Linked DNA regions of Homo sapiens: regions 1, 2, 4, 5 and 6 are each reported to be linked to region 3. The links are microRNA targets in miRTarBase. Many come from high-throughput screens and were not tested one by one. Region 3 holds a microRNA gene; each other region holds the end of a gene's coding sequence.
What was found. The annotated mature microRNA hsa-miR-6781-3p reads UGCCUCUUUUCCACGGCCUCAG and lies in region 3 at 2,559-2,580, opposite strand. An mRNA with a match to its seed (bases 2 to 7 or 8) in the 3' UTR can be bound and repressed. Matches are read on the target gene's strand: a 7mer-m8 pairs with bases 2 to 8, a 7mer-A1 pairs with bases 2 to 7 and ends in A, and an 8mer does both.

Region 1 (5,242 bases), not on the chromosome of region 3:
CATGGATTATTTTCAAACAAATCCTAGCTAACACACTGTTTTTTGTCCATAAATAGTTTAGGATTTCCTCTAAAAGAGATAACTTTTTAAAAAACAGTCACAGTCTCATTATCACACCATTTAAAGTTAATAATTCCTTAACGTCATCAAGTATAATGCTAACACTAACAAGTAATGTTCAGATTCCGCAGTTGTCTCCTTTTCAATTTATTTCCTTTTAGATGAGAAAATTGTACTTCAGAGATGTTAAGTTGCTTACAGAGATCATGCATCCAATCAGTAGCAGATCAAGGATTTAAACTCCAAAGCTTAACCACACAGCCTCTCAGAATAATAAAAATAATCACAATAATAGTTGTAGTAGAAATTTATGAGTACTTTACAAATATGATCTCATTTAATTTTTACAGTAGCCTGGTGAAGTGCTTACTATCATTATTAATGTTACACAGAAAAGGAAATTGAAACCAAAAGTTGCTTGCCTGAGGCACGTAAGAGTAGGAACAAGGATTCAAAACTCTTAGTAGTCTGATTCCAAAGCCTCTTAGAGGGGGTTCCAGACCTGAATACTAACAGGCACTTCTTGTCCATAAATCACATTATGTACTAATTGAATCTGTTTATAGATTCTAATTGAGAAAAGTAGCTCAGCTACAGTAGCAACCACCATTTTTGCTGTGTATCTCTGTAGTCACTTGATGGAGAAGAGCCAAATTCCATTTGGCTATGTAAAGTATACAGATGCCTAGGATGATCAGAACTGATATGCTTTGTAGAGAACAGAACTGTTTCCTTGGTATCAAATCAGTTTCATTGTGACACTTTGCCCAATGCATAGATTTCAGTTAGAGTTCTTGAAATATAAATCATAGCACCGGCTTTCTGCATACTAAAAATGAAAGTTTTTAAATCTTTTACAGAAGTTTTTGAAGAGTTAACTCACCAAGTGCAAGAAAAAGATTCTTTGGCCTCACAGCTCCATGTCCGCCACGTTGCCATCGAACAGCTTCTGAAGAACTGTTCTAAGTTACCATGTCTGCAAGTAGGGCGAACAGGAATGAAGTCGCACCTACCCATAAACAACTGACCTAAACAGACTTACTTCGTATGCCCTGCCCTTTATTGGTCTCCCAGACATGCAAACTTTGAAGAAGTTTGAAGAAAGTTGTGGTCCGTTTTTTTATGGTCATTAAATTTGCCAAACATAAGGCAGTATTTAACATCTTTGTCAAATAAAGCAGATCATTATACTCTAGTCTTCTAGGGCTAATCATTTTGGCTCATTTGGGGACTCTTTTTTCCCAGAATTACTAAACAAATTTTATCACATGTGACTACTTAAATATACTGTTACAGTGTCATTTTATTAAACATTTTAATTCACCTGTCAAAACAACAGATTAACTCCTTAGTGTAAACTACTAGAGATAATTTTTAAGAGGGAAATGGAATTCATATCACCTCTTATTTATTATGAGCAATATTTTAATATAAAAATTTTATATGTGAAAATGCTATTTTAGGTACTTTGCCATTCTCTTTATAAATGTGTATTTGAGTGGTTCTGTATATTTATTTACATTATCATGTGTGAATATGTTCACCCATATTTCAGGTCACTGCATTTTATTCTCTTAATACAATGTTTTCACAACGGTTACCTTGCTTTCCAAAGATAAATATATTTTGGATTAGAAATCTGAGTTGTTTTAATTTCTAATACCTCTTGTAAAAGAAGAATTAATAACTTTTTAAAGCAGTATTCAGGTAAATACAATACATTATTTTGTTTTCTAACAAAAGCAGTTCTTAGTTCAGGAAGAAAAGACTAATCTGGCTTCTATGTCAATTTGTCTCCATAGAAATGAAAGCCTCCTCTTGCTTCTTTCATTATTAGCTTCACACCAGTGACTGTGATGCATTAGAATTTGGACAGAGTAAGTCAAGCCTCACTTCCAATTCAAATATAATGTCTATCTTCAAATTGAGTGTGCTGTGAAATTGTTCTGTCTTTGAAAAAAAAAAGTAAGATTATTTTGTGTGCCACTTTGGGTAAAGTTTCAAGAATACTTAAACTGTCCAAATTGTATTATCACCATCATTGAACTTAGTGCTCAAAGAAAGCATTGTGAGGTATTTTTCTAAACTTTAGACTCTATAGAGAAATATAGGATTGTTCTACAGAAGAAAAGCAAAACTCCTAATTAAAAAAAAATAAACCTATGTATTAAGAGAATGTTCTCGTAAGTTGCCTATGATGCTTCCAAAGAGTTTTTATCTAACAGATTGTGCCAAACAGCTAGATAAATTTTAATAATGTATTACAGTAAAGGCTATAACCAATGCAGAATTAAAATGGGCTCTAAATTCTGTTTTTAACTCATGTTTAGAATGTACTTATGAGGTAGATCCTTGCTTGAAAGTATCTGCTGAAAAGCCCAGTAACGTGGCAGCTTCATGCATAAAGATATAAATGACATTTGCCTTAAATTTGGCAGCCTACCCTGGCTTGGGTCAGATTTTGTTGTTGAACACAAGAAAGTATTTAAGCAAAGAAACACTTCAGTTTAATTGAAAACAACTTTTTGTAATGCTGACGTGTTAAATTGGCCTGAGGGTATTAATTGATATCTGTTGATTTTGTTTTTCTTTGAAGTATAACATTACTTTTTGGAGGGAATTTTTGAAAGATGCTTTCGATTTCTCTCAATTCTTTAAGTCATGCAAAATGAATTTAAAATCCAGGGAGTATGGATGCATTGCCTTAGTTTTGATGAGCTTTAAATTAAATGTGTGCAATATCAAAATATTCAAACTTACAAGCTGGGTAAATACATTTCCTGATTAATATCTTAGTGCTTAATTGTTCCCACATTTTCAAATTTGACTTTACTCTTTTTTGGCGTAATTCAGTAAGATTGTTACCAGCCAGTGTGTTTGCACACATTTGGGTTTGTGTTTAGATGAGTTAGGGACAGTCATAAAAGTTGGGGATATGTTGCATTTGATATCAATAGTAGCATATTTCCAGAATATGAGCCATAAGTTGCAGTCCTGAATACAACAGTGTTATCCAAAGAAAGGAGTTTTCTGACAAATATACATAGCTTTGCTAATGAGTACGGAACAAGTGGATGAACGTGTGCATGTGCTAAGGTCTTAAGTGGGACTCTGATTTATTCCATTTAGATATTTCTACTTAAGCTCTAAAAAGGAGAGGTGCTCTTAAAAAAAACTTTGTGGTGCTGGTACTCACACTACTTTATTTGGATGAGTTCCTAGTAAAAAAAACTTTTTGTTGAAGTATTTTGCACAGCAGTTTATCCAAATGTTTGGTAAACTTATAATTTAGTCCTATGTTAGTTTTCTTAATCAAATATGCAATTACTGTGTATGCAAATATAAGTATCAGGTACAGAGTTGAGTTCTAACAAGAGAACATGAAATATCACAAATATTGTTTTCCACACTTGGCTATTCTCTACAGTTGTTAGTAATTTTTGAGAATGTTTTGAAGCATATCTCATGTACTACTGTTTAAAAAGTGGCAAAACAGACTGCCAGTCATCCATTACTAAATTTTCAGAGCTTATATGATTAAGGGGAGTGAGATAAGACAAATCTTTTTCACGTTCAGTTTTATAATTTGACACGTTAAATTGAGTTTTAAAAATTAGAAAAGTGTTTTTGACCACACAGGTTGTTCTCTTTAAAGTTCAGCCTTATAATGAAGCTAAAAATCAATTATGTTTTACTTTGAGATTATCATCTTATCCTTTGATCCTCATATTAATATCTAAATTAGTCTTTTTTAAAAGGCATGCACTTGAGACTCCAGTAATAGATGATTCAGGCAGCAGAATAGTGTTTTGTTGTGTCGTTGACTATGCACAATGGTGGAGCAAAGACACATTCTTAGTTTTTCAAAACACATGTTCATTTTACCACAAAGTGCCCATTTTTATATACATTTAAGGATTATTTTTTCAATGTCAAGTTCATGTTAGTGATTTCAGAAATATAGTCAAAATATATAGTCAAATATATCTTGACAGGCATCTTGAGATTTGGTTTTTCATTTTACTATATTTATGACTGAAAATGGTTTTGTGTTTTCTTTATGTTGTTTATATATTTTTTACCTTAGTGTTTACACTGGTAAGGCTTGTTAGTCCATTTTTGTAGTTTTTTTAAAGTAAGCTTTTAGATCTATTTGTGTTTTAATGTTTCCCAGTTTGGGTTTTGTTTTGTTTTGGAAGAATCTGCTTTCATTATTAAATTATAAAATGTAAATGCTCTAAAGTAGGAATTTTTAAAGAGTAAATTATTTGTGTAGCTTATTAGGAGGTTCAGGTTAGTGACCATAAAGTGGGTTACTTGTACATGAAAATTTGAAATGGTACCATGTAAAATTCTTCTATTGTCAACTTTTTCTGATGTATGCCAGTTCATTTACTGACAAATGTTGTTACTAAGTGCTTATTAAGAAGTGTAATACGCTATAAAAAAGTTAATACTTTTTGTTCAGATGTAAGGCAAAGATAATTGATGCCGTTTCAGTGTATGATTGTATTTTTAACTTTTACGTTGGTGGGAGTAACTATTTGAGGAAATTTGTGGTGAGAATTAGTAAGAGATAAAACCCCCAACAGTTTATTCTTACCAAGTAAAGTTTTGTGGTCATGGGGCAGGGAAGAGTTTATTTACCAGAATACTAGAGCCCTCACACAAAATAAAGGTAACTTGGAGGAGGGCTATAATGCTTGCATCTCAGTATTTTCATTTCACTTCATCCTTTCATAATTGCCTTGATTATGGTGCAGTCTAACCTATTAAGCAACTTCTGGCTATGGTAACATTGATATGAACCATATTATATCAAGTCTCCAAAACATCTAGTTTGTTAACATACACTTTCCCTGTTCTTTTTAGTTTGAGTCCACATTACTAATACATTTTAATAATATTTAATTATTTCACAATTTTAAGTTTACCAAAGTAAACAAAAATTCATGAAGATGAGTATTGCCCTCTCCCAAAAAAGGTTTAAAGATTAGTTGAACTTCCCTCAACTACACCTAAAGCAAAGGGGAATTTTAGTAAGTGTGTGTACCTTGTTTCTTTCAGACGCATCTAGAATGTTTTTCTTTCACCGTACCTCCAAAAGAGGCAATTTAGAAAGTATTAAGTAGTGACTTTTGTTCAGTTCCATTTTGTGTGTGTGTGTGTGTGTGTGTGTGTG
Region 2 (5,145 bases), not on the chromosome of region 3:
AGTCTGAGCTTAGAAATAAATATTAGCTGTGTTACCTTAGGCAAATTTGTTACTCTGTGGCTCCCTTTCCTCATCTTAAAACAGAAATAAAGCCTACCTCTCAGGACCACTGTGAAGATTAAATGAATTAATATATGCAAAATACTTAGAATAGTATCTGACATTTAGTAAACATTGAAATGTTAGCTATTATGATTATTATTGAAGTGTTGCTTACTTAGAATTTGTCCTACTTAAGTGTACTCCAATGAACAAGCCTGCAGTCTTAGAATTCCACATAGACTTCAAAGATTACAACCAACCAGGGAAGGATACTTCTCATATGAAAACCAAAACCCATCAACTCCATTAGCTATTATTCTTTTAGAGTTGAAAATATTTGTACAATGCTGCTATTAGGGTGTTTCTTTAGAAAAGACAGTATATAATCTTTCAATGCATACATAGAATTCTCAAATTTCTAGAATTACAAGTCATATATAAATTCTAAAAACATCTGAGGATATTAATTTTCAAGACCCATAACTGGAGTCTTTTTCTTGGTGTAGTCCTGATGTCAGTAAACTTCCTAGGCCATGCTAACCATGGGAACTATTCTTGGCTTGCAGCTCCAGTTCAGCAGTGATTTGGTGAGATATCTGTGGCAATCATTGTCAGCAGAACCTTATTTCTTCTTCTCCCTCTGCCGCATTGACAAAACACCGTTATCAGTTTCACTTGGGCTGGTCACAAAAACTTGGAAACATTGTACTTCAGTCTAAGTGAGAGAGGAATTCGGCAACTTTCCCTACTGCAGTACATGATTACTCATTCCTTTCAGGCATTCAGGTGAAAAATCTGGAGTCAACCTTTACTCCTTCTCTTATGTTCGTACCTCACATCCAGTTTACAGAAATCCTGTGGCTCTACCTAAAAAAAAGCCGCCAGAAACCAATCCCGTTTTATTACCTCCAAGGCTACTCCTGGACTAAGACATCATAATATCTCACCTTGATTATTGTAATACTTTTTTTTTTTTTGAGAAGGAGTCTCGCTCTGTCGCCCAGGCTGGAGTGCAGTGGCACGATCTCGGCTCACTGCAACCTCCGCCTCCTGGGTTCAAGCGATTCTCCTGCCTCAGCCTCTTCAGTAGCTGAGATTAGAGGTATGTGCCACCATGCCAGGCTAATATATATATTATATATTTATTAATATATTTATGATTTATATATAAATACATATTTATATATTAATAAATATATACTCCTGACCTCAGATGATCCGCCTGCCTTGGCTCCCAAAGTGCTGGGATTGCAGGTGCGAACCACCGCCCCCGGCCTATTGTTAATACTCTTTTTAACTGGTCTCCCAGCTTCCTCCCTTACTTACCACCCACCTTACGGTCTATTCTCAACATAGGAGCCAATATGATTATTTCAAAAGTTAAGTCACATCAGGCTACGTTTCTTCTGAAAACCTTTCCATATAGCTCCCAGTCAAGTGTCTTACAAAAAAGCTTTATGATCCTAAGCTTTTAGCTCCCTCACCAGCCTTTCTCCTGCTTTTACCCTCTGACCTGATTTCTGTCTACCTGTTGGGAATGCTCTTCCTCCATGTATGTATCTGCATACTAGTTACTCTTTTCCTTCTTTGCTCAAATGTTACCTCAGGGAGGTCTATCCTGGCTATTCTATTGAAATATGCATATGTCTGTACACACCTAAGCATCTCCTATCCTGTCCTCAATGTTTCCTCCATAGCATTTATCACTATTTAATACAGAAGTTCCCATAGTGTGGTCCCCAGAACTTTCTAGCAAGTTCGCAGGTGATGCTGATGCCGGTCGTCCAGAGACACCTTTGAGAACCGGTTTGAGGAGAATCTCTTTTCTCAGACTTGCAATATTTCTGATTTGGGTAGAGCTAAACCACTCGAACTTTAGGGACCACCTTAAGTGTCTCTTAAAACTCAGAAGGCTGGGACCCATCCCTAGAGTTTCTGATTGGGTAGGACAGGTGGGGCCCAAAATTTGTATTTCTAATCACACTCGGAGAGCCACTGATTAAATGTAATGTATATTTTATTATCTATTTCCTCCCTTTTAGAATGTAAACTCTATGAGGGAGGGACTTTTTTTCCTGCTGTTTCTGCTTTCAAAGAACAATACCAGGCATATAGTAGCCATTCAGTAAATATATATGGAAGGAATAAATGAAAATTGCTAATCCTACTGTTACATCAGAACACATCTCCTAATTTTATTTTAAGATTTTATAGGAAAAAATACAAATACAAAGTTAACAAACATTGTATAGTTCAATCCCCTCATGCAAGAAGGCGTTTTTAAGCACTGGGCCACATAGACAACTGGGATTTCCTGATATTAGGGAAATAAATTATTAACAATTTACATTATTAGAGCATTAGTATTGACACTAAACATTTATGAAATGCTACCATGCGCTAAGCACTTCAGGTACTGTATCTCTTTTAATTCTTGTAACTATTGAGATGGCTAGTGGTGTCATTTCCATTTTACAGAGAAGGGCTCTGTCACACCATGCAGCCCACTACCAGCGGACTCCGTAGTTTCTATATTGTCTCCTTCCCTCTATGTGCTCTCCCAATTGGGAACCAGAAGGTAGGGTATAAAATAGGAGGTGATGCGTTTACTTTTCAGTGTCCAGGCATATCAAGGTTTGAATTAAAATTTGCTGAACATCATGTAACACTAAAGGTCATCCTGGCCATCTTTCTATTCGTAATAACATTCTAAAGAGCATTGGATTTCTAGATGCAAATGTGGAACCCTACAAATGTTCATACCTCTTGTAAAAGATAGGAAAATGTTTTTTAGGAGGCATGTTGTTTGGGGACTTTTTTGTGAGGATTTAGAACAGTTTAGTCAGTCTGAATATTTATTCTACCAAACCCTGTACAATAGCATTACATTTATGCAGAAAATAATGGATATAAATGATTATGAGTTAGTGATTTGTTTTTTCCCAAAAGGCCATTAGACTAGGTGTCTTAACTTTTTCTTAGAGGGCCAAATAGTAAATGTTTTTAGACTTGCAAGCCATACAACTCTGCAGTTGTGGAAAGCAACCACAGACAAAACATAAATGAATGAGTGTAGGCTTGTTTCAAAGAAACTTTATTTACGTAACAGGTGGCCAATCCATGGGCCAAAGCTTGCTGACCCTTGTGTTTAAAGATTCCCATCTTAGTAGCATGAATAAAATGGACCAGATAAATTTCAGTTAACTTTGTCAAATTTATCTTAAAAAACAAAAAACAAAAAACCTGTTTCTTCCTATAGAAACACCCATATTCCTATAAATAAAAATGACTTTTAAAAAAGACAATCCTAGCAGGCAAATAAAAACAGACATTTGTCTTTGTAGTAAGTTGAATTAGCTAAACGAATCCTTGTATTTATTTTTCACACAGCACAAATGCAGGTAGTACACAGTAAGTTCATAATTCCCCACAAAACTTATAAACTTAACAAATGGGAATCTAAACATAATATTCTGAATCACCCATAGCTATCCACTGTGTGGAATCCATTCTACAGCAGCAGAGGAGTACCTTAATTTAAAGCACCAAGTTTCCAGGCATTACTACAAATATCTTCTTTTCATTCTCTAATACATGCAGTCAAACTGCCTATGAAGCAAATACCAATTCATCTTACGCTTTAACAGATAAGGTAAAGCACTTGGGAAATCAACATTATTCTTAAGTCTGAAAGTGATTCTACCTCTTTACCTTATTATATTTTCTCCCATGAAATTTTAAACTTTTAATGGAGTTATATTTAATATGAGAATAAATTAAAATTTGAACTTAATGTCTTTTCAGATTCATCCAGCAGTTTAGAATGTTTATATTTGTTTTATGTCTTGAGGGAAACAAAAACGTAATTTCTAATTTAGAATATTCTGGCTATCTTTATTAAAAGTTACATTTATAATTTTATAGCAAAGTAATATCATCTGTTTGTCCAAACATTACAGATTTTAAAAAATTCCCCTAATGTATGTAAATACAAAGCTTATTCCCAGTACACATTTTATAGAGGTGTGTTTTCATTTTTTGAAGCAGGGTTCAATGGACATTTTTAGGGTCTTGCTAACATCAGCCCTATATACTCAGAGACGATTGAATCTAGTAAATGGACAATGAAAACTGGTTGAGGCTGCTGATGAATGCTTCAATAAAAATCTGATACACACAGATTTCATTGTCATATTCAACAAAACCAAGTCTTCCTTAAAACTGTGATCCTGATAGGCTGAAGATAGAGTAATGGACTGTTAGTTCCTCATGCCAAAAATACATGGGTCTGTCATACAAAGGCTTCATTCTCTGCCTGTCGTCAGTAACTTGAGAGCCTTTTGTAGATTCTGGACAGCAGTGCTTACATCTTCATACTGCAAAGCACTGCCAGCATATTTGCAGTACTTCTGAGCTCTAGCAAAGTCTTCTGGGGTTAGACGAACATCCCCTAGAAGAAAAAGAACAATTGGGATATTTATAAGAATATAAAAAGTGTTCTGTAAGGTTGGGCAAATGCTTATGCTTAAGATTAAAAAACATATTTAAGGCTATGTAAAAACAGTAGTTTTAGTCAATCTCACATGAACTTTGATACATTTTCTTCATTCTTTTCAATTGTCTTTTTATTACTAATATAAACCACAGACACGGCAATACATAATAACTTAGATGAATTAAGATTTTCCTTCAAGAAGCAATAAGGACAAACAAGGATAGCAGCTTTGGTGTCTATGCTAAAATCACTTAGCCTCTCTCTTCATGGAACAATACACACAGACTAAACCAATTCAACCCTCATTTGAGCTGGAATGTAAGTATCACCTTCAATAAAAAAAAAGTGAATAACAAACTTTATGTAAAGAAAACCAGGTTGCTTAGCTTGTTTTAAGCATGAGAGTATTTTACATGTTTGTGCCATCCATGTAAAAATTTCTTAAGGTTTCTTAAATTTTATATCACTGAAATATACAATTAAACATGTAAACAACCATTACATATTATTTCTCTAAAATTTATTCTTAGCAAGTTTTCTAGTTATACATATGATTAACATGTAGTGCCCAACTAAACAATTTCAGTTTAAAAAAAAAACATTAAAAA
Region 3 (5,075 bases):
TGGGATTACAGGCTGAGTCACCGCGCCCGGCCGGTATCATTTATCTTTAAGAATCCTTATCTGTCAAAAATACAGAAATATTTACAGTATTTATGTTTGGGATTTGCTTCAAAACAATTCAGAGTGGGAAGGAATGGATGGGGCTGTAGACAAAACTTGATTAAATATGTGTTGATAATTGTTGCAACTAGGTGATGGGTACACAGGAGTTCATGATATACTCTGAAATTTTCCATCACAAAAGCAAACATCCTGTTTCCCCCAGAATAGCAAGGAGGGAACATAAGGAAACTTTCTAGGAAGATGAAACATTGCTAAATTGCAACGATCCAGATTACATCAGTGTATCCATTTGTCAAAAATGTACAGCTAAGATTCATACATTTCAAGTCATGACAATTTACCTTTCTAAAAAGGTGTGAAAAACATAATAATTGAGCAGAGGATGGGAGGTGAATGGAGGTGTAGACAACATAAGAATGTGAGAATATGGCTGATTATTGAAGCTGGATGATGAATACAAGGCAGGCTATGCTATTCTCTTGACTATATATGTCTCAAATTTTCCATAATAAAAAGTCAAAAATTGTTATTAAAAGAGTTTAAGAGGCGCGGTGGCTCACGCCTGTAGTCCCAGCACTTTGGGAGGCTGAGGCGGGCAGATCACAAGGTCAAGAGATCGAGACCATCCTGGCCAACATAGTGAAACCGTCTCTACTAAAAATACAAAAATTAGCTGGGCGTGGCGGTGTGTGCCTGCAGTCCCAGCTACTCAGGAGGCTGACGCAGGACAATCACTTGAACCCGGGAGGCAGAGGTTGCAGTGAGCCGAGATCGCGCCACTGCACTCCAGCCTGGCAACAGAGTGAGACTCCGTCTCAAACAAACAAACAAAAAAAAGAGCTAATTTCCCCTCAAGAAAGAGAAACCAGGTAATAATAGCAGCTAATACTTATTGAATACTATTTGCCCAGCAAATTCCTAAGTGTTTCTGTGGTTTGTCATATTTGAACTTTATAAATTCTTTATGAGGCAGTTTAACGTTTTACAGAAAAAATCAGAAACCAAGGCTTGGAGAAATGAAGTAACTTGCAAAAAGTTGTTCAGCTAGTAAATGACAGCCAGGATTTAAACCCAAGCAGGCTGACTCCAGGCCCATAAGCTTATTTAAGCTGCCTATTCAGTCTTCTCTTTTACTGTCTGACTTAATCTGAATTCTTCTGACTTTGCGGGATTTTGGGGTTTTTTATTTTTTTTAATTATAGAGACAGGGTCTTACTGTGTTGCCCAGGCTGGTCTCAAACTCCTGCTCAAGTGATCCACCTGCCTCAGCCTCCCATAGTGCTGGGATCACAGGTGTGAACCACCACTCCTGGCCTTTTTAATTAATTTATTTTTTGAGACAGGGTCTTGCACTGTTGCCCAAGCTGCAGTGCAGTGGCATGATCATAGCTTCCTGCAGCTTTGACCTCCTGGGCTCAAGTGATCCTCCTGCCTCAGCCTCCACCACCCACCACACCCAGCAATTTTTTTTTTTTTTTAGAGACAAGATCTCTGCTAGGTTGCTCAGGTTGGTCTTGAACTCCTGGGCTCAAGCGATCCTCCCACCTCAGCCTCCCAAAGCACTGAGATTACAGGCGTGAGCCATCACATCCAGCAAATTCTTCAGACTTTAAGACTCTACTCCATTTACCAGCTGTTGGACCTTAGGTAAGTCACTTAACCTCTCTGTGCCTCGGTTCTTCATCTGAAAAATGATGTAATGACGGTATACCCCGTACGGGTTGTTACAGGGACTAAATGAAGTAATACGTGTAATGCACTTGGTATTACTATATAGTAAGTCCTCAAAAAATACCATTTATTATTATATATACATATTCCTTTTCTCTGAAACAGCAGGAGCAGAAAATAAGGATCTTTCTTTTGCTACTGAAAGCTCTCTTTTTTTGAGACGGAGCCTCGCTCTGTTGCCCAGGCTGGAGTGCAGTGGTGCGATCTCAGCTCACTGCAAACTCCACCTCACCGGTTCAAGCGATTCTCCTGCCTCAACCTCCCGAGTAGCTGGGACTACAGGCACGTGCCATCACGCCCGGCTAATTTTTGTATTTTTAGTAGAGAGGGGTTTCGCCATGTTGGCCAGGCTGGTCTCGAACTCCTGACCTCAGGTGATCTGCCCGCCTCGGTCTCCCAAAATGCTGGGATTACAGGCGTGAGCCACCGCGCCCGGTCGGAAAGCTCTCAGAAGTCCACAATGTCAGAATGCTTTATGTTTCCAAGGAGAAAACAGGGAGCCAGATGAAGTGACTTTCCTAGGTTCACACGATGAGTTTGTGGCAGACTACACAGCCACCATAAGAATTATATCACCAAAGCTGCCCACCTTCCACATTCTTGACCACCCTCTTTCCAAGGGTCTCGCTGACCTGTGAGTTCCTGGATGGTGACACGGTCCAGGATCTTGAAACTCGTGTCCAGTTTCAGGGGCTGGCTGCAGCGCTGGCACACGAAGCTCACCTGCATGGTGCTGTTGTTGGACGTCTTAGACCCTTCCATCCCTGAGGCCGTGGAAAAGAGGCAACATTAGGGAGAAGCGACGCCCTTGACCTCCGGCCCGGGGTTACCACATGCCTTGGTGACGATGGTAAAGGGAGGGAAGTCCCAACCTGCGCCGTTCCCTCTAGGAATGGTATGATACGGGGAGGACCTGCTTCCGGGACAGCCTGAGCAAAGGCAGTTTAGAGCCCAGGGTCAGGGAAGGGACTCCAATAAGAGCCGTGAGGGTTCCCAGACTCCCTTCTAAGGTCCCACCTCAGCCCCCGATGCTCTTCACCTCGGGAGCCCGGAGCCCGTCACCCAAGTCCGGTCTACCGCGGAGGCACTGTGGCCTCGGGTCGGCCCCGGAGCGAGGCCTCCAGAACTACCATCGCTCTGTCTTCAGCGACTTCCCGGTAGCCGCCGGAAAACTTCCGCCCGAGACCGGACGTGACGCTACGACGGCAGCAGGAGCTCCTGGTCCACAGGCTCACAGGCCCGGCAGCGGCCCCCAGAGGCCGGGCTGGGAAAAGCAGCGGGCTTCAGCGGATGAACAAGGTTACCACGGGAAGTGTAGGAGCCAAGGCCGCAGAGAATGGGGAGGCTCCGCTATTCTCTAAATTCAGGGGGCGGCGGGCGCGGTGGCTCACGCCTGTAATCTCAGCACTTGGGGAGGCCGAGGAGGGCGGATCACGTGAGGTCAGGAGTTCGAGACCAGCCTGGCCAACACAGTGAAACCCCGTCTCTACTAAAAATACAAAAACTAGCCGGGCGTGGTGGGGCACGCCTATAATCCCAGCTTAATCCCAGCTACTCGGGAGGCTGAGGCAGGAGAATCGCTTGAACCTGGGAGGTGGAGGTTGCAGTGAGCCGAGATCGGGCCACTGCACTCCAGCCTGGGCGACAGGGCAAGGCTCCATCTCAGAACAACAACAGCAACAACAAAAGGCCGGGCATGGTGGCTCACGCTTGTAATTCCAGCACTTTGGGAGGCCGAGGCGGGCGGATCACAAGGTCAGGAGTTCGAGACCAGCCTGGCCAAAATGGTTAAATCCCGTCTCTACTAAAAAATACAATTAGCTGGGCATGGTGGCGTGCGCCTGTAATCCCAGCTACTCAGGAGGCTGGGGTAGGAAAATCGCTTGACCCCCGGAGGCGGAGGTTGCAGTGAGTCGAGATCATGCCACTGCACTCCAGCCTGGGCGACAGAAGGAAACTCCATCTCAAACCCCCCCCCCCCACACACACACACAAAACCAACAAAAAAAGAAAGTGATATTCAAATAAAAGCTTGAAGAAGGTGAGGAAGGAATTCTTACCTGCATCTTAAGGAAGAGCATTCTAGGCCAAGGGAACAGCAAGAGCACAGAGGGTACCTGTTTGGGGATTAGCAGAGGCTGGTGTGGCTAGAAGATGGGCAACGAAAAGAGATACAGAAAATGGGGTGAGGGAGGTAAGAGTGTTGAGCTACCACCTAGGCTCTTATAGGGATTGTAAAGCTCTGGCTTTCACTTTGAATGAGATGAGATGACTGGGTCTTGAGCAGAGGGACTTACTTCATTTTTAAAAACAACTTTATGGGGTATAATTTACATACCATAAGACTCACACTTTTTAAATGTACAGTTCAATAATTTTTAGTAAATTTACACAGTTGCCCAACTATCACCATAATCCAGTTTTAGAACATTTCCCATCTCCCCTTGCAATCCCCCACTGTGGCCTCCCAAAGTGCTGAGATTACAGGTGTGAGCCAATGTGCCTGGCCAAAAGTTTTTCATTTCAATAAAGTCCAATGTTTATGCTTTTGGTGTAAAAGAAACCACTGCTTAACCCAAAATTGTATGTAGTATTGTCTATTTTATTTTTATTTTGAGACAGTGTCTTACTCTGTTACCCAGGCTGGAGTGAAGCGGAACAAACAAACATGGCTCACTGCAGATTTGACTTCCTGGCTCAAGCAATCCTCTTGCTTCAACCTCCAGTGTAGCAGGGACCACAGGTGATCACTACCATGCCCAGCTAATTTTTAAAATTTTTTGTAGAGATGTGGTCTCACACTGCACTCCAGCCTCGGTGACAGAGCGAGACGCCATCTCAAAAAAAAAAAGAGATGGGGTCTCACTTTGTTGCCCAGGCTTCTGCTTTTTAAATTTAACATTTTTCTATGTTGCTACACAGTTATTGTAGTTATCATGGCTACATTACACTACACTAAATGTACTGCCTTAGTGTATTTTTTTACCGCTGGAAATTCTACTATTTCCCCTGTGGGTGATTACAATAATCCTGCAATGAAGAGCTGGCTACTTATGATAGAGACTCATAACTGGGACTACAGAATTAAGAGTGTGTCAGCTATTTAATGTCTCTTCCTTAACACTGGGAATCATTTTCCAAAGTGCTTGCACATAACTATATTCTGCTTCCAGTAATGTATGAGGAAGCCTGTTTTCATATTGCCTTGGCCAGTATTGGGTATCATATATTTGGGGAACAAAAGCAAAAAATGGCACTTCCTTGTTATTTTAATTAGCATC
Region 4 (5,242 bases), not on the chromosome of region 3:
CATTTGAAACCATGTGCGTAATGTATCCTGGCACGGGGTAAGCACCCGGGAATTGGAAGCTGTGATTCTTATTTGGGGGTCCCTTCTCTCTTTTGGGGTCATTTGCTTTTTGGGGAACATCATGGTGGAACATTGAACTCCGCGGGCCCCTTGTTTGCGTGAGGATTTTCTCACCTGCCTTCCAGCCCTGATTCTTCTCGACTATGGGCCAGGCTGGGGGACCCTGGGATCGAGAGAACTTTAATGAGTGGGTGCCTCTTTCCCCCAGGGCAGTGCCAAGGAGCTGTCCCCTGCCGCCTTGGAGAAAAGGCGGCGGAGAAAGCAGGAACGGGACCGGAAGAAGAGGAAGCGAAAGGAGCTGCGGGCGAAAGAGAAGGCCAGGAAGGCTGAGGAGGCCACGGAGGCCCAGGAGGTGGTGGAGGCAACCCCAGAGGGGGCCTGCACGGAGCCGCGGGAGCCGCCCGGGCTGATCTTCAATAAGGTGAGCGGGAGCTGGGTCCTTGGGCGGGCTGGGTCGGCTTCAGGCCTCAGCGTTGCCCCTTGTTAGCTTCATGATCTCTCTCCGAACCCCATCATGTCTGTAAGGTGGTGACGGGGACCTCGCAGGTCCCTTAGGGTACTGGCCAAGGCTGGGGCCTAGTGCAGGGCTGGCATGAGCTGATGTCATACCTTCCTCCCAGGTGGAGGTGAGCGAAGACGAGCCGGCCAGCAAGGCGCAGCGCAGAAAAGAGAAGAGGCAGAGGGTGAAGGGGAACCTCACGCCGCTGACCGGGAGGAACTACCGGCAGCTGCTGGAGCGCCTGCAGGCACGGCAGAGCCGGCTGGACGAGCTGCGCGGCCAGGATGAGGGGAAGGCGCAGGAGCTGGAGGCGAAGATGAAGTGGACCAACCTCCTCTACAAGGCGGAGGGCGTGAAGATCCGTGACGACGAACGCCTGCTGCAGGAGGCCCTGAAGCGCAAGGAGAAGCGCAGGGCGCAGCGGCAGCGCCGGTGGGAGAAGCGCACGGCCGGCGTGGTGGAGAAGATGCAGCAGCGCCAGGACCGGCGGCGGCAGAACCTGCGCAGGAAGAAGGCGGCCCGCGCCGAGCGCCGCCTGCTCAGAGCCCGCAAGAAGGGCCGCATCCTGCCGCAGGACCTGGAGCGCGCAGGCCTGGTCTGAGTCTTTCCCACCTGGGGCCGCCGTCTTCCGTCCTAGGAGACTCCAGGACACCCTCTGAGTCCTTGACGCTGGCTCTGTCCCAGGATCTCCACAGACCTCGGCCTCTCCATGTGAGGGGGACACAGTGGTGCTCTGCTGAGTTGTGAGGGCCCAGATCACAGATCCCATGTGAGAAAGAGAGAGTTTCAGCGTCATCCTTGAACGCAGGATCCGGGACCTTCAGACCCAGGGAAAGGGTGAGGGAGACTGGGGCCTGGTCTGCTTTCCCGGGCCTGAAAGCTTCCCCGAGGTTTGCAGGGTCAGGGAGGAGGAACGGTGGGGGTGGGCAGTCACTGCCTGTTCCCCACTGCCTGTGTTCGCAGGAGCCACGGGACAGAAGACGGTGGCCTCTGCTGCCGGGCCACGTTAGTCCGCAGCTCACCCGAACAGAGGACAACCCTGAGGTGTGGCATATGGGCACCTGGCACTGGGAGTCGGGGGAGCACGTCCAGGCGTGGTGCATCCTGGGGCAGAACGCCATGGCTCCTCCCCGCTCTCTTGGCTTCTGCCTGTTGGGGTCTCATTCCTTTCTGTTCCCCAGTGCCCCGGGGCGGCATTTTACTGCTCAGAATTTGGAGGGAGGGAGCAGTACCTTCCCGGAGTCCACGCATGTGAGTTGGGTCAAGTGCATTGGACCTAGGGAAAGAGAAAGAAAGAATAAAAGCTGGAGAGAGAGTGAAGTGAATGCAAGATACAAAGTGGGATGGAAGAATTAAATCCAGAGTTCCAGGCAATCAAAATGAGTGCAGGTTGAAAGAAAACAGGTGAATTTTAGTGGCATATGGATGATAAAGCTGTAAATAAAATTCTTTTGATGAAACTCTCCGGTTATGAGACAAAGACTGTAACTGAACAGGAGCTGGTGTGACTGTTACCAGACAGAGGCAACTGATGAAAAAGCCCTGTGAAAGATAGGATGTGAGGTGAGCATGAGCTTGAGCTGAGAGACAGACACAACAGTATCTGAAAAGAATACATACTCTTTCCATGCATATATGGAACATGGATGGAAACTGACCACCTACTTTGTCCAGAAAAGAAGTCTTAAGATATTTCAAGGAATCAGTGTCGTTATCTGACCGTATCCCAATGTCATTAAAAAAAATTTGAGCTATTTTTTTTTGTTTTTTAGATAGAGTCTTGCTCTGTCACTCAGGCTGGAGTGCAGTGGCATTTCATATTTGGAATTTTTAAAACACACTTATAAATTACCTATGAGTTAAAGAATTCCGAATGGCTATTAGAAATATTTGGGACTAAAGGATAATGAAAATGCTACGTATTAAAATTTGTGGAACAGGGCCTGGCATGGTGGCTCATGCTGTCAATCCCAGCTCTTTGGGAGGCGGGTGGATCACTTGAGATCAGGAGTTCAAGGCTAGCCTGGACAACATGATAAAACCCCATCTCTATTAAAAATAAAAAATTAGCTGGGTGTGGTGGTGCAAACCTGTAGTCCCAGCTGCTTGGGAGGCTGAGGCGGGAGAATCACTTGAACCCAGGAGGTAGAGGCTGCAGTGAGCCAAGATCGAGCCGCTGCACTCCAGCCTGGGTGACAGAGCAAGACTGTCTCAAAAAGAAAAAATTTAAGATTTGTGGAACAGAGCTAAAGCAGCACAAAAAAACATAGCCCCTAAATGTATGTGCATCTACAGATAAATAGTGCCATTTATACACACATACGCTGTATGTCTGTATTTTTAAAGCTAAAGAAAAATAAGCATGCAGCTTAAGTTGGAACAACTCAAAGTAAATGGAAGAAAAATCTCCAAAACTGACTAAAAGTAATAGAAAGCCTGAGTTGTAATCACTGATGAAATTGAGTCAGTAGTTAAGAATGTTCCCCTAGACGGTTTTACAGGGAAGTTCCACGATATAGAGAACAGGTAATTCCAGACGTAGACAAATTCTAACAGAATCAATTGAGAGAACACTTCATTCGTGAACTTAGCTTTGATACCAAAACTAGGTAAGAGAAAGGGAAGTTACCAAATACCTGTGGGCGGCAAGCCACCCAGGCGCCGAGGCAAGAGACAGAGGACACGAGCTGTTCCAGTATAATAAAATATAAAACAAGAATAGTTACAGCAGATATAGATCTTAGATATGATTACATATGAATATCATTAATCATTAGTTTGTAGCAATTACCTTTTATTCCAATATTATAATAATCCTCGCTCTATAATCATAGCCTAGGAAAAACCAGGCCATACAGAGATAGGAGCTGAGGGGACATAGGTGTGACCAGAAGACAAGAGTGCGAGCCTTCTGTTATGCCCGGACAGGGCCACCAGAGGGCTCCTTGGTCTAGCGGTGACGCCAGCGTCTGGGAAGACGCCCGTTGCCAGGTGGACCATGGTCTAGCAGTAGCAAAAAGTATCAAGGAACAACACCCGCTACTTAGCAGACCGGGAAAGGGAGTGTCCCTTTCCCTGGAGGAGTTTAGAGAAGACTCTGCTCTTCCACCTCTTGTGGAGGGCCTGACATCCGGCAGGCCTGCCCGCAGTTATCTGGAGGCCTAACCGTCTCCCTGTGATGCTGTGCTTCAGTGGTCACGCTCCTAGTCCGCCTTCATGTTCCATCCTGTACACCTGGCTCTGCCTTCTAGATAGCAGTAGTAAATTAGTGAAAGTACTAAAAGTCTCTGATATGCAGAAGTAATGGCATAAGCTGTCTTTCTCTCTGTCTCCTCTCTCTCTCTGCCTCGGCTGCCAGGCAGGGAAGGGCACCCTGTCCAGTGGACACGTGATCCACGTGACCTTACCTATCATTGGAGATGACTCACACTCTTTACCCTGCCCCTTTTGCTTTGTATCCAATAAATAACAATGCAGCCAGACATTCGGGGCCACTACCGGTCTCCGAGCATTGGTAGTAGTGGTCTCCCGGGCCCAGCTGCCTTTTCTTTTATCTCTTTGTCTTGTGTGTGTATTTCTACACTCTCTCATTGCTGCACACAGGGAGGGAGAGACCCACGGACCCTGTGGGGCTGGTCCCTACAAATACCAATGTCAAGATTTTAGACAATAATAAACCAAGTTTAGCAAAGTGCCACACTGGATTTAATTCAGAATTGCAAAGCAGTTTCAATGCCAGAGAATCAAGAGTGTAATTCATATCAATAGATTAAAGGAGCAAAACCCACGTGACCATCTCAATGGTTGCAGAACAGGAACACAGTAAATGACGCGACAGCCATTTATAACGAGTTTTTAGCAAACTAGGAATTAAGGTATTTCCTTACTCTGATAAGGGGATTTGGAGCCAGGCATGGACCCATCTTGAAACTACATTCTGGGTCAGGCAAATGTAGATGTATTGGAGGGAAAGACATCCCCATGGGTTCCCAAGAGGTGAAGTCATCATAGTGAACTAAGGGGCCAGTGAGGGTCTGGAAAAGGCCACTGCCATCACCTGGCTACAGAGACTGAAGAGGCGGGGGGGGGTCTCGTCCTGAGCAGAGACAGGACAACTGGGTGGGCCAGTGAGGGCTGCAGGTGGGGGAAGCTGAGAACCCAGCAATATTTTACTGCCACTGGATGTCTGCACAAGGAACCTATGCCAGCCAGGGAGGTTGAGAGTGAGGCTCAGTGGGGACTGGCATACTGGCTGAGTGGATGCAGTCATTGAGCAACGCATGTCATGCATGGCGTGGGCCATCACTCTGCTGGGTGAAAGTTTCAGGAGCGAATGAGACCCAGCCCTAGCTCTCAAGGAACCCATAGTCTCATAGGTAGTGGTCCTGCAAAGTGGCCAGGGAAAGGATCGGGGTGCAGGGTGCTGAAGTCACATGGAAAGTTGTGAACGTTGCCGGTACCAAAATGGAGTCACTTATGTCAAACTAAAACAGTTGGAGGTGATGAAGCAGCCCTCACGCACACATTCCTGCAACAGGACTTACCACAAGACATTTCTACAAACAGACCAATAACAGGACTCACTGCAAGACCATCCTCAACGGTTGCAGTATTCCAGATAAGCTGCTATTCCCAAATCCATTTATTTTAGAGAGTCTATCTCTGGATTTCTTCATAGGTTGA
Region 5 (5,242 bases), not on the chromosome of region 3:
GCCATCCAGGATGATATCTTTGTTACCATCTTTATTTATCTTGCTCCCTGTCTTGCTTGGGGTATTTCCCATCTTGATGGTTTTGGGTTAAGGTTCAAGGTTCAATTTCCCTTACTGGAAATTTCTTGCCTTTTGGGGTGAGGCTCAATTTCCCCCACTGGAAATTTCTTGCCTTTTGGGGTGAGGCTCAATTTCCCCACTGGAAATCTCTTGCCTTTTGGGGTGAGCTCAATTTCCCCCCTGGAAATTTCTTGCCTTTTCTACTACTGGAGGTTTGTGTGATGTCTTGCCTCTTTTTAACCTCTATGCTACCCCAACCAAGGAGTACTTCATTGCCCCCCCGCGGCTTTCTTACCTTGGTCCTGACCACCAAGGATATACTTTACCGGCTCCCGTGGTGTCTTTTCCTCCGTCCGTGCACAGACTTGCATGGCCGTTAGGGAGGCCATTATGGAGGATCCAGCTAGGTTGCTGGCCAGTTTCTTTTTGCTTTGCTGAGAGCTCGGGTTATTCCTTGCACTGGGTGGGTCCTAATTTCTCACCCCTGAGGCTGCCACAAGGGGGCGGGGCGCGCCTCCTCATGAGAGAGGACTTGAGACTACCCCTGGAGGGGAATGTAATCACAGGCGAGCCCCCAAGTTGTTTTAAGTAAAGTTTCGGTGCCGCAAAAGAAATAGCACTTGAATATAAAATTTTCTTTTTAATTCTCAGCAAGTCAATGTACTTCTACAGAAGGGTGCGCCCTTACAGATGGAGCAATGGTTGAGTGCACACCTGGACAAGGGAGGGGAAAGGGTTCTTATCCCTGATGCACATGGCCCCTGCTGCTGTGTCATTCCCCTATTGGCTAGGGTTAGACCACACAGGCCAAACTAACTCCAACTGGCTAATTTAAAGAGAGTGACAGGGTGAGTGGTTTGGCGGGAAAAATGGTTATGGCAGAGCAGGAAATCGGAATGAGTCAGGATGGAGCAGGTAATCGAAAAAGGTTGCTTTATGAGGAAGTTAAGTTTACAAGTAGAAGGCAAAGAATTGAACATACTGACATACTGATTCTTTAAAGAGAAATTTAGAACTCATATCTAACACACTGATGGCTATAGCATATCCTCTGTCCTTTTTCCTATCTATTGGAGGAGGAGACTTAGGTGAGACCTCCGTTTCCTGTTATTTTGACCCAGTGATATTGGGACTGAGGGAAGAGGAGGTGATAAGGCAGGTGACATTTTCTCCTCCTTCCTCTTTTTAGGCTCTTCTGTGTGTAACTGAGCCAGGGCTGCTCTAATTAAAGCCCATAACATTAAAGATTTTACTGGGACCTGATGCCTTTGCACCTGATGTTGTTTAAGATTTCTCCCCACTTGTTCCCAGAGTTCTACATCTAGTGTTCTTTCCTCTGGGAACCATGGGCTTTGTACTCCATTATTGACCACACTAGTTTTTAATTCCTTCAACAACTGAAATTCTAGTGGGGTGTGTTCATGAATAAACTGCTGTGGATTATTGGGATCAGGCCTTATGGAAACAGGAACAGCGCAAGGTCCTAAGGGCTCTCCAGCTATGACAGCAGAGCGTAAAATTCTTTGTATTGGGGTTTCTATTTGTGCTACTGAAGGAGGCAGTACAGATGTTTCTGCAATTGGAGGAGGCGGTATAGGCCAATTTTTATCCTCTCTGTTTTTTATTTTCAATTGGAGCTGTGGGTGGGACAACATATTCTTTCAGATTTTTAGATTCAGGCTGTTGTCCCACAGAATAATAAGGAGATAATGGTAGAAGTACAGTACAAACTAAACTCCAAGTGGAGAAAACAGAAGAATCAACTAAGAATCAGCTAAGACCTTTTTGATGAGCCTGTTTTAATCCTTCTCCTGCTTTGTCTCAATTTTCCATATCAAGGATGCCTGCCTGTGGGAACCATGGGTTATGCGTAATAACCTTTTGTGGCTTCTGCAGGAGGTTAGTGTCTGCGAATTAACCTAAGCTCCAGACTGTCTCTACAGAACTTTAAGCAACTGCACATAATGTTTTTCTTCAATAGACAAATTCTTCCCCTTGTTAGCCTGATTCAGAAAACTTCCTGTTCCTAGTACTTCTTTAAAGCACTGCTCCCAGTACCTCTTTACGGCACTGATCAGTACCTCTTTAGGGCACTGACCTTATCTCTGCTGCTGGCAGACTCGTTTCGGGGTCCCCATTCGCCTTGTCAATTTCAGTTCCTCTGCTCCAGCGGACTTTCTTCATTCATGTCCTCGAAGTCCTGTGTTCGGATGCCACTATGCAGAGCACCCGATCCTGTTGCTGTTTGGGGTGCCACTTGTAACCTGCATGGACCTCGGGGGACTGAACAAAGGGGGGCGAATGTGGGAATAAAAGACAAGACACAAAAGAGTATATTTGGAAGAAGAGGTCAAGGGGCATCTTGCCTCTAGTGGACAAGGGCCGTGAGCTTTACACAGCCCTCTGTATTTATTAGGTGAAAGAGACAGCAAGAAAGTGGGAGGATGGTTGTCGGGTAATTGTCAGTCAGCCGTTTGGTTCACAGCGGGCTTGTGAACAATAGGCGCTAGATTTCTCAATAGATAACTTCCAGGAGCCCGGCGCCAGGGCATGATGTCCCTCAGCAAACATTTTGGTGGCAAGGCAGTGTGAGTTTGCCCACATCCTGCATTCATGATAAACAGTTCGCTGTTTGATCATATAGCCTCCAGCGGAATGCTGAGTTGGTCACGTCCCGCGGGCCTTTGGCTCCCTGCAGGGTAACTCTGTCTTAGGATAACTCTTAGGCTCCACCTTAGGGTAACTCTGTCTTAGGCTCTTAAACTCTTAGGGTAACTCTTAGGCTCTGTCTTAGGGTAACTGTCTTAGGCTCTGTCTTAGGGTAACTGCCCTGTCTTAGGGTAACTCAATTCTTCATCACAGCTGCAGGTCACCTACTTGCAGAGGAAGAGTCTGCTTTAGTCACCTGCCACGTGGACAAGCTTGGGTGCATCCTAAGGATGTCGGTTCAGAGGGAGAAGGTGGCTGGGTGTCATGTGTTTAGTCCCTTTTCCAGCTTCACCAGACAGGCAGGTCACTGCTGCCACAGGGAGAGGGGCTGAGGGGCAAAGGGCACCTCTGTGGTCACTCTTGCCTGGAGACACAAGGCCCTCCTGAAGGACCCCTCAACACTTAGGAGCATTAGTACAGCGGGATTAAGGGCTTTTTTTTTCTTCAAATTGGACAGAGGGACAGACTGCTGAGGAATACATGTGGATTCTTTCCTTCTGTGACACTCTGAAAGAATTGTGACTGGGGCATGGGGTGCCACCTTCAGAGGCAGGAGTGTTTAGGAAATGCCACAGTGGCACATGACCTGCGTGGGCTCCAGCAGCAGCAGCAACCTGCAGGGTAGATAGGGCAGCTGAGAACACGAGAGCAGAAGGGCGGTGACTCTATCATCTCGGAGGGTTCTGTTCAAACAACATTTTCTAGTATACAATGAAAAGAGACCTGGTGCCAGGCATGGTGGCTCATGCCTCTAATCCCAGCACTTTGGGAGGCCGAGGCAGGTGGATTACCTGAGGTTGGGAGTTCGAGCGAGACCAGGCTGGCTAACGTGGCGAAACCTCATCTCTACTAAAACTACAAAAATTAGCCAGGATTAGGCACGCGCCTGTAATCCTCAGCTCCTTGGGAGACTGAGGCAGGATAACTGATTGAACCCAGGAGGTGGAAGCTGCAGTGAACCGAGATGGTGCCACTACACTCCATCCTGGGTGACACAGTGAGACTCTCAAAAAAAAAAAAAAAAAAAAAAGAGGCCTGCTAGTACTCATCTCATAGGGCTGTTAGGAGGAGTAAGTGAAATCAGACATACAAAGCATTTAGCTCAGCTCAACCAACGCTCATTCTCGCCTTGTCCCCACTGCATAGCCCCTAACCCCAAATATCCCAACATAGCTCATAACAATAAGATTCTTGTTTCCCCAACATGTTTAATTTTAAGAATAGAGATAATGGTCAACTCTTGAGAAGAACCAAATGCTGGTGCCATCTTGGAAGTGCTACATCACCTCCTCCTCTTACTTCCTTGAACAGCAATATTTCTGGATTTCTTCTGCAAGCCCCAGGCAGTGCAGGATGCGTTTCTTTTCAGCAGCCAGTTCCTTCTCAGAGAACTGGCCCAAGAGTTTCTGGACAAATATATTTTGATCTTTCAGAAATATGTTCTTATTCACTCCTACATTTGGCACATTCTCCAAGGACCCAGACTTGAAATGGAAGCTTAAATATCTGTTTCGTTTTAGACCAGGTCCTTTTTCTTCAATCCATGACAGTGGACTGCAAAGACAAAAGACAAAAGAATCATGTTAGAGATTACACAAGAGCACAAGTGGGTGCTTGCTGGCACCAGACCGCCTGGTAACATGTCCTTGTCAGGCACCCATCCTCCTTGCAGCCACCAGCCTCCCAGAGGCTGTGGGTGACTGTGTCAACCTCACAGCCAAACAGTCTTTAATTTAATTTTGCCATCAGGCAGGGGAATTCATTCAGTGACTTTTTTTTTTCTGGGATGGAGCCTTGCTCTGTCACCCAGGCTGGAGTGCAGTGGTGCAATCTCGACCCACTGCAACCTCTGCCTTCTGGGTTCAAGCAATTTTCCTGCCTCAGCCTCCCAAGTAGCTGGGATTACAGGCGCCTGCCACCATGCCTGGCTACTTTTTAAAAAAATATTTTTAGTAGAAATGGGGTTTTGCCATGTCAGCCAGGCTAGTCTTGAATTCCTGACCTCAAGAGACCCACCTGCCTTGGCCTCCCAAACTGCTGGGATTACAGGCGTGAGCCACTGCACCTGGCCTCCCATGACTAGTTTTAAAAGCTCATAGTACAGTCTAGCAAATGTTCTGGGAGATGGCAACAAAGATTAACTTTTATTTTGGCACTGAATAAAAATAAACTTGAGGTATTCTACGTAGTCTGCCTAAGAAAATTTCTCATGTCTTTTTTTTGAGATGTTTGCTCTTGTTGCCCAGGCTGGAGTGCAGTGGTGCAATCTCGGCTCACTGCAACCTCTGCCTCCAGGTTCAAACGATTCTCCTGCCTCAGGCTCCCCAGTACCTGGGATTACAGGCACCTGCCACCACGCCTGGCTAATTTTTGTATTTTTAGTAGAGACAAGGTTTCACCATGTTGGCCAAGCTGGTCTTGAACTCTCAACTTCAGGTGATCCAACTGCCTTAGCCTCCCAAAGTGCTGGGAT
Region 6 (5,242 bases), not on the chromosome of region 3:
AACTCCTGTCTCACTTCCAGAGCAGCAACAAGTTTGATCACCTCACCAACCGAAAACCACAGTCCAAGGAGCTCACCCTGGGCAACCTGCTGCGGATGCGGCTGGCTAGGCTGTCAAGTACTCCCAGGAAGGCGGACCTGGACCCAGAGATGCCCGCAGAGGGCAAGGCAGAGCGCAAGCCCCATGACTGTGAGTCCTCTACTGTTAGTGAGGAAGACTACTTCAGCAGCCACAGGGACGAGCTCCAGAGCAGAAAGGCCATTGACGCTGCCACTCAAACAGAGCCAGGAGAGGAGATGCCAGGGCTGAGTGTGAGTGAGGTGGGAACACAAACCAGCATCACCACAGCATGTGCTGGTACCCAGACTGCAGTCATCACCAGGATAGCAAGCTCTCAAACCACGATTTGGTCCAGATCGACCACTACTCAGACTGACATGGATGAGAACATTCTCTTTCCTCGAGGAACTCAATCTACAGAAGGGTCACCAGTCTCAAAAATGTCTGTATCGAGATCTTCCAGTTTGAAGTCTTCCTCCTCTGTGTCTTCCCAAGGCTCTGTGGCAAGCTCCACTGGTTCTCCCGCTTCCATCAGAACCACTGACTTCCACAATCCTGGCTATCCCAAGTACCTGGGCACCCCCCACCTGGAACTGTACTTGAGTGACTCACTTAGAAACTTGAACAAAGAGCGGCAATTCCACTTCGCTGGTATCAGGTCCCGGCTCAACCACATGCTGGCTATGCTGTCAAGGAGAACACTCTTTACTGAAAACCACCTTGGCCTTCATTCTGGCAATTTCAGCAGAGTTAATTTGCTTGCTGTTAGAGATGTAGCACTTTATCCTTCCTATCAGTAACTGCTCCGTGTTCAGACTCCTGGTTTCTTCCAGGCTTACAGTGGACATCATCAGCTTCCTGCTTTAAAAAATATCTTATGTCCCTAATTGCCTTTCTTTTACCTGACTTTGTCACCTTTGTTGTCTTTGAATTCTTTAGGCTGCATATTATTTTACATGCTTTGTTTTGTCATGTATATACCAGGTATTGGTTTTATGGTTTAAACACTATGGATACAGGGGTTTGTTTTGCACAATTTTAATAGTCATGCACTACATAATGATGTTTTGGTCAATGACAGACCACGTATATGTTGGCAGTCTCATAAGATTATAATACTGTATTTTTACTATACCTTTTCTGTGTTTAGATACAAATACCATTATGTTACAGTTGCCTACAGTATTCAGTGCAGTAACATGATGTACAGGTTTGTAGCCTGTTTTGCATTTTTCTTAGGTTGTATGCTCTTCTGTTTTAAAGGTTTGAATCACCAGCATTTTTGTGATCAAAATCCTATTTAGAAAAAATAAAACTACTTTCTGTTTATCTCTTTAGAATATCTGTGTTCTTAGCATTAAATAAATATAAACTTGTGCTTCTGTACTTTTTCCCCCCCTCTGACACTTTTCTCTTTAAATCTGGGAGTATGTCACAAATTAATGCACCTAATAGATATAGGTATATAGATATCTATATCTGAAGGTTTTTTAAATAGTGTCAGGGTGAGGAAGAAGTAGATGATCCAAACTATAGAAGAGAAAATAGATCCACTTAACCTTCCTCAGCATCATGAATATTGATGTTACTCTATAGTTTAAGTGAGGAAACTGGCCAGAAATAGCAGGCCTTTGCACATGCTCTGCCTTTTCTCTTTTCGAAGAAAAAGCCTGAGCTATTTCAGTAGGTCCTTGGTACTCTGGTACTCTGCTTGTCTACCAAAGGAGGCGTTAGTGTATGTTCCTATATTCATTCCCAATATTAACTCTGGTGGCCCCATGGGCCTCATTTCATCAGCTGGGTGTATTGACAGTGATTTAGCCATCTAATATCCCAGAGTAGGGGCAAAAGAGGACACTGACAATTATCCCAGTTTCCTGGTCCAGTGGCAGGCAGTGTAATGGTTTCTACATCCTTCTAATCAGGATTGGTATGGCTGTGGAATCCTGTTTTTGTCTCATTCTCATGGACAGACAAAAGGGAAGAGAGTTAAATGATGCCTTCCTCCCTCTCCTGACTTAGCTACAGCAAAAAAGATCTATAACAGGGGAAGGTGTCTGCCACATAAAATGCTGATGCACTTGTATCATGAGTGTCCCTACACTCACGCGTGTGCCAGGACTTCCTTATGATGGTCAGGCTATTTGCTGGGTTAGTGCTGTAATCTGTGGCTATAAAGAAAAGGAAAGGAAGGAAATTGATCCATGTCTGCTTAGAAACAACTCTGAGCTAAGCCTCGAGTAAACATATTGTTATTTGAAATCATCTTACAGACTTAAGTCACTTCATATATGCCATCTTTGATCTTTGCAGCAATGTAGCAGAGAGCTATGCAGGTTAGGTAGCTGTTATTTCCAATTTTCAGATGAAACTGAGGCACTGATTAAGTAGCATATTCAAGATGACATGGCTTGTAAATGGTGATGCAAGAATTTAAACACAGGTTTCTAGATTCTAAGTGCAGTACTCTGTTACATGACTATTTCTCTACACGGAGTATGGAAGCAGGAGAGAGTGTACCTTGAGAAATGGCAGTTACTGCAATGGTGAATGGAAAACTAAAACAGCCTCATTAACAAACGTTAAGTACAGGCTGGGCGCGGTGGTTCACGCCTGTAATCCCAGCACTTTGGGAGGCTGAGGTGGGCGGATCACCTGAGGTCAGCAGTTTGAGACCAGCCTCAACATGGAGAAACCCTGTCTCTATTAAAAATACAAAATTAGCTGGGTGTGGTGGTGCATGCCCCTAATCCTAGCTACTCGGGAGGCTGAGGCAGGAGAATTGCTTGAACCTGGGAGGCGGAGGTTGTGGTGAGCCGAGATCACGCTATTGCACTCCAGCCTGGGCAACAAGAGCCAAACTCTGTCTCAAAAAAAACAAAACAAAAACAAAACAGCAAAAAAAGCAAAGTACAACAAAAAAAAGTAAGTACAAAGTCCTAATCTGTGATACTTCTTTTTGTTTGTTTTTGAAGCAGTCTCGTTCTATTGCTCAGGCTGGAGTGCAGTGGCACAATCACAGCTCACTATTTTTTTGTAAAGGCAGGGTCTCACTATGGTGCCTAGGCTGCTCTTAAACTCCTGGGCTCAAGTGATCCTCTTGCCTCAGCCCCTCAAAGTGCCGGGATTACAGGCATGAGCTACTGCATTCAGCCTGTGATAATGTATTTTAATTTAGTTTGAAATTTTAACTGAATGTTCTATGGAACTGTTAATAGGATGACATAACAAAGGTTCTGTGTTTAGTGTGAGAAACTGGGCCAAAGAAATGTAAACAAAGTTCTTTAATGCAGGACTACTCAGAACTCTGAAGTAATGATCACAGTGAATTTCTCAGAGCAGGGCAGGTATATGGCTTACCACAAACTACCTACCACAGAGTGCTCTTTTTGTGGAGCAGGACTCAAAACCATTATTCTCTGAAAGTGTGGCCAACAATTAGAAATAAGAGCAAGAGCCGGGCGCGGTGGCTCACGCCTGTAATCCCAGCACTTTGGGAGGCCGAGGCGGGCGGATCACGAGGTCAGGAGATCGAGACCATCCTGGCTAACACGGTGAAACCCCGTCTCTACTAAAAAAATACAAAAAATTAGCCGGGCGTGGTGGTGGGCGCCTGTAGTCCCAGCTACTCGGGAGGCTGAGGCAGGAGAATGGCATGAACCCAAGAGGCGGAGCTTGCAGTGAGCCGGGATAGCGCCACTGCAGTCCAGCTTGGGCGAAAGAGTGAGACTCCGTCTCAAAAAAAAAAAAAAAAAAAAAAAAAAAGAAGAAGAAGAAAAAAGGCCGGGCGCGGTGGCTCACGCCTGTAATCCCAGCACTTTGGGAGGCCGAGGCGGGCGGATCACGAGGTCAGGAGATCGAGACCATCCCGGCTAAAACGGTGAAACCCCGTCTCTACTAAAAATACAAAAAATTAGCCGGGCGTAGTGGCGGGCGCCTGTAGTCCCAGCTACTTGGGAGGCTGAGGCAGGAGAATGGCGTGAACCCGGGAGGCGGAGCTTGCAGTGAGCCGAGATCCCGCCACTGCACTCCAGCCTGGGCGACAGAGCGAGACTCCGTCTCAAAAAAAAAAAAAAAAGACAAAAAAAAAAGAAATAAGAGCAAGAGATACATGGAGTCCTAAGAAAATGACCCAGTCTCTCAAAGTAAGCAGTCTTTCTGGAGTTGAGTCCAGAAAGTATCATTTATATGGCAGAGTTTTTCAAAGTGAGATCTGAGGACCACCTGCATCAGTCTTGGGGTGCTTGGGTGCTTCCATTTAAAATGCTGATTACTGGTTTCACTCCCAGGGGAGCGGGGTATGAGTGTGGCAGCCTATGTAGTTCAAAAATATTTGTTATTCCTCCCTGGGAGAAAATTATATCCCTCTGTCTACTGTCAGATTTGGCCATCGCAGACTTAGCTGTGAATATTTCAGCATATATATCTAAAAGATAACTGTTTTAGAAAACATAATCATGGCCAGGCGCGGTGGCTCATGCCTATAATCCCAGCACTTTGGGAGGCCAAGGCGGGTGGATCACGAGGTCAGGAGTTTGACACCAGCCTGGCCAACATAGTGAAACCCCGTCTCTACTAAAAATACAAAAATTAGCCGGGCATGGTGGTGTGCGCCTGTAGTCCCAGCTATTCGGGAGGCTGAGGCAGGAGAATGGCGTGAACCCGGGAGGTGGAGGTTGTGGTGAGCCAAGATTGCGCCACTGCACTCCATCCTGGGTGACAGTGAGACTCTGTTTCAAAACAACAACAAAAAAGAAAACCACTTTACCACTGTCACACCTAAACAACTTTGATACAAACTTATCAAATAAATATTCAGTGTTTAAATTCAGTTGTCTAATTTTTTTCTCCCCCTGATGGTTTGTTTGAATTAGAGGTTGATCCATGCAGGCTTGACATTCTCCTATTAAAGGAATCAACTGAAGAGGTGGCCGGCCACCCCACCTCTGTAGGCAGTTGGGCTGGGGAGTATCTGTCGTTTACTTATGGGACTTAAAGCGACTAACAAGAAAAGCTAGGGTACAAGGTCGTGTAAATGAAAAGTTACATGAAGGAAACCCAAGGGTGAGGGATAAAAAGTGGAGTCTGGAATGAGGCTTGAAGAGCCCGCCATGACATACACACCTACTTCATGAGGCCACACGTTTAAGCTTTCCAATAGTGAATACAGAGAAGCCTGGTC

Region 1: the mRNA of C21orf91 is a reported target of hsa-miR-6781-3p. Seed matches in the 3' UTR shown: 8mer at 5,165-5,172.
Region 2: miRTarBase lists VTA1 as a target of hsa-miR-6781-3p. Seed matches in the 3' UTR shown: 7mer-m8 at 1,120-1,126.
Region 4: the mRNA of SURF6 is a reported target of hsa-miR-6781-3p. Seed matches in the 3' UTR shown: 7mer-A1 at 2,080-2,086.
Region 5: the mRNA of BLVRA is a reported target of hsa-miR-6781-3p. The part of its 3' UTR that is shown has no 7-base or 8-base seed match.
Region 6: miRTarBase lists FAM83D as a target of hsa-miR-6781-3p. The part of its 3' UTR that is shown has no 7-base or 8-base seed match.

The regions. Positions count from the first base shown.
Region 1 is chr21:17,789,260-17,794,501 of GRCh38, reverse strand. It overlaps C21orf91 (chromosome 21 open reading frame 91), which reads left to right. Exons shown (of 5, transcript NM_001100420.2): 5 at 921-5,242. The coding sequence ends at 1,087. C21orf91-OT1 (C21orf91 overlapping transcript 1) reads left to right here and starts at 1,993. Exons shown (of 4, transcript NR_038871.1): 1 at 1,993-2,025. All of the region lies in intron 2 of LOC124900465 (a long non-coding RNA gene), which reads right to left. RefSeq lists an enhancer at 373-542.
Region 2 is chr6:142,217,845-142,222,989 of GRCh38, reverse strand. VTA1 (vesicle trafficking 1) reads right to left here. Exons shown (of 8, transcript NM_016485.5): 8 at 1-4,492. The coding sequence ends at 4,347. Among named protein-coding and RNA genes, the nearest start is that of LINC02919, 40 kb to the left of the region's middle.
Region 3 is chr17:42,821,322-42,826,396 of GRCh38, forward strand. It overlaps MIR6781 (microRNA 6781), which reads right to left and starts at 2,622; the gene lies at 2,559-2,622. It overlaps BECN1 (beclin 1), which reads right to left and starts at 2,961. Exons shown (of 12, transcript NM_001313998.2): 1 at 2,834-2,961; 2 at 2,427-2,558. The coding sequence starts at 2,556. RefSeq lists enhancers at 2,188-2,754, 2,755-3,323, 3,190-3,319, 3,324-3,890.
Region 4 is chr9:133,327,787-133,333,028 of GRCh38, reverse strand. It overlaps SURF6 (surfeit 6), which reads left to right. Exons shown (of 5, transcript NM_006753.6): 4 at 269-481; 5 at 681-4,253. The coding sequence ends at 1,160. Among named protein-coding and RNA genes, the nearest start is that of SURF6, 5.8 kb to the left of the region's middle.
Region 5 is chr7:43,806,058-43,811,299 of GRCh38, reverse strand. BLVRA (biliverdin reductase A) reads right to left here. Exons shown (of 8, transcript NM_000712.4): 8 at 3,958-4,323. The coding sequence ends at 4,065. Among named protein-coding and RNA genes, the nearest start is that of BLVRA, 50 kb to the right of the region's middle. RefSeq lists an enhancer at 412-511.
Region 6 is chr20:38,951,661-38,956,902 of GRCh38, forward strand. FAM83D (family with sequence similarity 83 member D) reads left to right here. Exons shown (of 4, transcript NM_030919.3): 4 at 1-1,446. The coding sequence ends at 860. Among named protein-coding and RNA genes, the nearest start is that of DHX35, 8.1 kb to the right of the region's middle.